Linked DNA regions of Homo sapiens: region 2 is linked to region 1. A link means that fine-mapping ties the variant in region 1 to the expression of a gene that starts in the linked region. Tissue or cell type: whole blood. Region 1 holds a variant in brackets; the other region holds the start of a gene. All regions are shown on one strand. Distances are from middle to middle.

Evidence for each region. PIP is the estimated chance that this variant, and not a neighbour inherited with it, causes the effect.
Region 2: TMEM176A starts here. The variant in region 1 is fine-mapped to the expression of TMEM176A in whole blood (INTERVAL, PIP above 0.99).

What each region holds. Positions count from the first base shown.
Region 1 is chr7:150,779,087-150,782,112 of GRCh38, forward strand. LOC105375566 (a long non-coding RNA gene) reads right to left here and starts at 2,043. Exons shown (of 4, transcript XR_928163.2): 1 at 1,597-2,043. The variant C/T (reference allele first, on the strand shown) is at 1,465.
Region 2 is chr7:150,799,445-150,802,207 of GRCh38, forward strand. TMEM176A (transmembrane protein 176A) reads left to right here and starts at 1,325. Exons shown (of 7, transcript NM_018487.3): 1 at 1,325-1,384; 2 at 2,092-2,280. The coding sequence starts at 2,107. TMEM176B (transmembrane protein 176B) reads right to left here and starts at 920. Exons shown (of 7, transcript NM_001101312.2): 1 at 854-920. RefSeq lists enhancers at 1-616, 617-1,316, 1,317-2,016.

The sequences.
Region 1 (3,026 bases):
TAAAAGTAAAGAGGTTTCTTTTTTCTTTTTTATTACAGTGTTTCTACATTTATAAGAAATTTAACTTGTCTTCTCATTGTACTAATATCTGTATTAAGACTGGTTTTTTGCTTTTGTTAGCGCTCTTCACAAAGCACTAATTTTCAACAACGTGATCCAACCATAACTCTCTCATAAGTCTGTTGTTTTTAACATGAAATATTTAAGGAATGCAAGATTTTTCAGCAATATATAAATGTTACAGCAGAAATGTCCATACTGTTCCCCACCACCACTACCCGCACTTTTAAAATAAATCATAGCACACTCTACACACTGAGTTCACTGAGTTGTGTTTGCTTTTTTTTTTTTTTTTAGATGGAGTCTTGCCCTGTCACCCAGGCTAGAGTGCAGTGGCACAATCTCAGCTCACTGCAACCTCCACCTCCCAGGTTCAAGCGATTCTCCTGCCTCAGCCTCCTGGGTAGCTGGGATTACAGGTGTGCGCCACCACGCCCAGCTAATTTTTGTATTCTTAGTAGAGACAGGTTTCACCATGTTGGTCAGGCTGGTCTCAAACTCCTGACCTCATGATCCACCCGTCTCAGCCTCCCAAAGTGCTGGGATTACAGGTGTGAGCCACCGCGCCCAGCCTTGCTTTTATTTTTTAATGAGATGAGTACATAAATAGCCTCTTCATGCTTTTTTCAGCTGCAGAGTGCAGGTATTAAGACGTAAATGGGATCTAGAATTCTGATTTGATTCTGTTTCTCTAGCACCGACATTAAGATAGACTCTTGGGGATCCAGTGTTCACAGGCACTGTTACTCCACCTGGATTTTGTCTACAGAGTGAATTATCTAAGACAAATAAACTATACATTTTATGTATATGTATATATAAATGTACATATACATTTTATGTATATGTATATATAAATGTACATATACATTTTATGTATATGTATATATAAATGTACATATACATTTTATGTATATGTATATATAAATGTACATATACATTTTATGTATATGTATATATAAATGTACATATACATTTTATGTATATGTATATATAAATGTACATATACATTTTATGTATATGTATATATAAATGTACATATACATTTTATGTATATGTATATATAAATGTACATATACATTTTATGTATATGTATATATAAATGTACATATACATTTGCAAAACTTGAGTTTATATGCAGCTTTTTAAGGAACAGAACACTTGCTTGAAGTGAGTTTCCCCAAAGTATCTGAATGCCTGCCACACTCTCCTCTCCCCCATTACATGGTATTTCCTCACAGTTCAGATTGGCAAGTGCACTTGGGGTCACCCCAGACACATACCTTGCTCAGGAGCCTCTGAGTGCAGCTCCTAAATATCTGGGGCCTACAGCCTAGACAACCCACTTAAGTGCTAGTTACTATACCTAGTCTCTCAGCCTATTATAATTGGGACTCTTTCAAC[C/T]GCACATGTCGTAAGCAAAAGATTGCTTAATGATCGTATACTAAAATGGTCAGGACTCAATCTGGCTTCAAGCACTGCTGAATTCAGAATTCAAGCAATACAATCAGGTGTGAGTTGTTTGTTGTTTCTCACCTGTCAGCTCTGACTTCCAGGTTGTCTTCATTCTGAAGCTCCTGGGGTGGTCTTTGGCAGCTCCAAGTGGACTTTTCACAGGGCAATGATGGCTGCCACAGCTCCAGCTTACATCCGTCTAGGTTCAAGTTCAGTGAGGAAAGCAAGAGCCTGTGATGGTGGCATAACCCAGAAGCCCTAAGATTTACTCTGATATGACCCATTCAGGCCATGTGCCCACATTTGAAACAATCTCCATGGCCTGGGGAAAATGATCTGCGGTTTAAGTTTGGGTCACAGGCTTTATCCCTGGAACTAAGGACAGAGCCCCACCATGAACACTTAGCCTGATAAAAAGGAAAAGGTAGGTCCAAAAATGGAAATCTGGGGCTGTTATTAGAAGAAAAGAGAATGGATGCAGGGCCATTTCTTGTTAGATTCTATGCTAGCACTAACTCGATGGTTCTCAAAAAAAATTTCCCCACCACAACAATTTCAACCAAGAATGGTGGTGTAACTTGAGAAAGTCCCTAGAGGATTTCACAACATCTCCAATTGCAAAAGTTCTCCCAGCTCACACCAAGAACCACTGGCCTACTCGATTATTCCCCAAATATGTCCTGTTGATCACATTGCAAACTGTTCAATACAAACGGCTTAAACAAACTCCATGTACAGCTGGAAAAAATAATTCATTCCATTTATTGATTCATCCAACAAATATTTAGAAGCTGTCCTCCCAACTCCCCCTAATATCTCTCTTGTGTATACAAGGCAGGAGGATTTGTTTGCCATTACAATTTATTGCTGACTTCCAAGTTTATATATACCAAATGCTCCTAAACTCCAGGCTAACATGTCCAAATGCCTTCTCAACATCTCAACCTGATCTCTAAAAATCCTCTCATATTTAACATGCCCCAAATTGAACTCCTGTTTTCTGTCATTTAAAAATGTTCCCTCCATAGTCTTCCATGTCTTGGTAATTAACAATACTTTGAAACAAAAACTTGGAAGCTGTCCTTTGCTCCCCTTCTTTTCTTACAACCCACATTCATCCTGTTTGGGAACCCTGTAAGTTCTGCTGCCCAAATATATTGAGAATCCAATCACTTCTTGCTACTTCCACTGCCACCATCATGGTCCAAAGCACATCAGTGCTTGCCTGGATTATTACAAGAGCCTGCTCAGTGTCCTTTGCCCTTTATCCCTAGCTCAGTAGTCAGGATTCATCCTTCTCACCCACCCACCCCCAATTCCACACATTCCCAGTTACAAAATGCTCTAGAAGGAACTGTAACAAGAGGCATCTAGCCCTACCTTTGCTGAAGAAGGGCAAGGCCCATCTCCTGGGGTTCCTGGCTCCTGCAGCCTCAGCATGGCCACATGTCCCTGCATCTGACTCCTAGGACCACAAACACTGACATACAACTGGTTCAGGGTTAGGATGT
Region 2 (2,763 bases), 20 kb after region 1:
ACTTTAGAATCAGCTTGCCTGGCTCTAAAATAAATCCTGCATAGGCAATTCTAATGGACATCCTGGCTAAGTATCACAGTTTAAATCAAATATTATTAACAATTCTAATAACACCTCCCATTCGTACTCTACCTACTTTTCAAAGCAGTTTCACTCTTTCACCCACCTGGCCTCCTTGGGGTTAGAAAGGACAGGAGTTAGACAATTCCGCACACGTACAAAGGAGCTTCAGACTGCTTCCAGCCCAGCCCCAGATTCCAGCCAGACCTTCCCTTGACGGCCCAGGCCTCGCCCTGAGGGCACCTCGGGTTCCAGCTACCTCCGGGCCCCCAGGACCACCGCTTCCCCCGCCCCACGCCAACCCCTAGATCTGCCTCGCCCCCGCCTGAAGAGTCGGATCTGAACCAGGCCGGCACCACGGAGATTCCCCTGCGGGCCGCCCGACGCCTGGTAGGTGGTGGGCTCTTCCCGGCTGCCCCGAACACTTTCCTCTGTCCAGCTCTTCCCGTGCCCCGGGGCTGGGGAAAGCGTCCGGCAGCCCCGCCGCTCCCTGGCCCCGTCCCAGGAGCCACCCCACCGTAGGGCTCCAGCCAGGGTCCAGGCGTGCAGGCGGCAGAAGGTGGACGGGACGCGCCAGCCCCAGGCCTCTCCTCCCGCTCTCCAGCCGTTTTTCTGGGGAGAAACACCTGCACCCAGCTGTCCCTCCCTCCTACGTGAGTCCTCCTGGAAACCAGGTTGGAGGAAGAAAGACGTCCTGTGGACAGGACGGGGTGGGGGCATGGCCCTGGGGACTCCTCGTGACAGAGGGTCCTGCGGCAAGAGGGTCTCCCGGGCCGCGGAGGCCCTGCCTCACCTGCAGTCCTCCGGGAGCCCGCGGCCGAGCAGAGCGGACACTAGCTGACCCCGAGCAGGGGAGCGACGGGAGGGCGGAGACGGCAGATGCACGGGTGGGGGCTGCGGCCCCGCCCAGGCTGCGCGGTTTCCCGAAACCAGCTGCGGCCCGGGGGCCCGGCAAAGGGGGTTCCGCCCGGAGGAGCGGACCGGGCGGGAGAAGACCGAGCCCCCGCGCGCCCCCTGCGCTCCCACTCGCGCACACTTGCACGCCGGCCCTGGCCGGGCGGGGCTGGAGGCGAGAACGACCCCACGGGCTTTCCCAGGGCCGTCCGCCCGCGGACCCTCCCAGCTCCCCAGAGCCCAGTGACCCTCGCGCAGCAGGAGAACCCCAGACGGACCCCAGGCCCTGCAGCCTGTCATGAACCCGAGGGGCTGAAGTTCAGCCCCACCCCCGCCTCCCCTCCCCGCCTCCCCCTCCAACTCTCAACCCACTTCTCCAGCCAGCGCCCCAGCCCTCCCGCCGCCCGCTCGCAGGTCCCGAGGAGCGCAGGTGAGGCGGCACCCCACTCCCGGCGGCCCCCGGGCCTCCTTCCGCACGCACCCCGAGCTGCCTCCGCACAGTTGGAGGAGCGTAGGAGGGACCCCCACCCAGGGATGACACTCCAGGAAGGGGACTGCAGAGGAAGCCAGGTGCGGCCCCGGCTTTTGACCTACCTCCGCACCGCAGCGCGGTCCTTCACGGGGCAGGGGCGGCGTGAACCCGTCGGGCGTGAGCAGCAGTCGGTGGAGCGGGAGGTCGGCGGTGGCGGGGATGGGGGTATCCGGAGCGCAGCCGGGGCGCAGCTGCTGGCACAGGAGCTCCACAGGCAGCCAAGGACTCGGTCCTGTCCCAGAGCCTGCGGACTGTGGAGGGGAGGCCGCAGGAAGAGCCCGGGAGGAGGGGGTGAGGGGTCGAGGTGTGGGGCGCTGCTTGACCCAGACGCCAGGGCCCTGGGAGGAGGATGAGGGGGACAGAGCAGATCTTGGGCGAAAGGGGAGGTTCCCGCAGGCTCTGTAGTCGCCGCAGTTCCAGCATGGTCAGCACCCCCTCTGCTACACACATTCCCCTCGTGAGGGGCCAGGGGTGCGGCCCTGTGACCAGGACAGCCATTCATTGGGTGACTTTGAGCCACCACTGGCCCCTGACCTCCCCAACTCCAATGAAATCTGCGAAAATCTTCTGACAGCCGTTCCTCTCTGGTGCTCCCTTCCTCATAGACTGTGTCCCTGACAATGGGAACAGCCGACAGTGATGAGATGGCCCCGGAGGCCCCACAGCACACCCACATCGATGTGCACATCCACCAGGAGTCTGCCCTGGCCAAGCTCCTGCTCACCTGCTGCTCTGCGCTGCGGCCCCGGGCCACCCAGGCCAGGGGCAGCAGCCGGCTGCTGGTGGCCTCGTGGGTGAGTGTGACGGCCTGCCTCGTCGGGCGGCGGGAGGAACTCCCCACCTCCAGCCGCAGCAGCACTCTCTGCCAGCCTCCCTCTGAACAGGACACCGAGCCAGTTATGTCTTCTTACTTAGCGATGTGATTCTCTGGCCTTCTCAGTAAGAGCCTGGGGAGGGGAGGCTCTGGGCTGAAGGGGTGTGGAGGAGCCACTGACCATGCAGAGTCCCAATCAGTGGAGCCCTGAGTCCATCCTTTCCTCTGGGCCAAACTCAGGATGGGCCGGCTCTCCTCTCCTTCCTTTCCCTTCTCTTTTCTCCTCCTCCTGCCTCTTCTTCTTTCTCCTTCTCCTCCTCTTTCTTCTCCTTTTCTCTTCTCTTCTCTTCTCTTCTCTTCTTTCTTTCTCTCTCTCTCTACCTCTCCCTCTCTTTTTGGGGTTTTAGCGGTTAATCCCTGCAGTGGCAGGTCCACCTAGGAGCCGGGATCTTGGGTCCTTTGT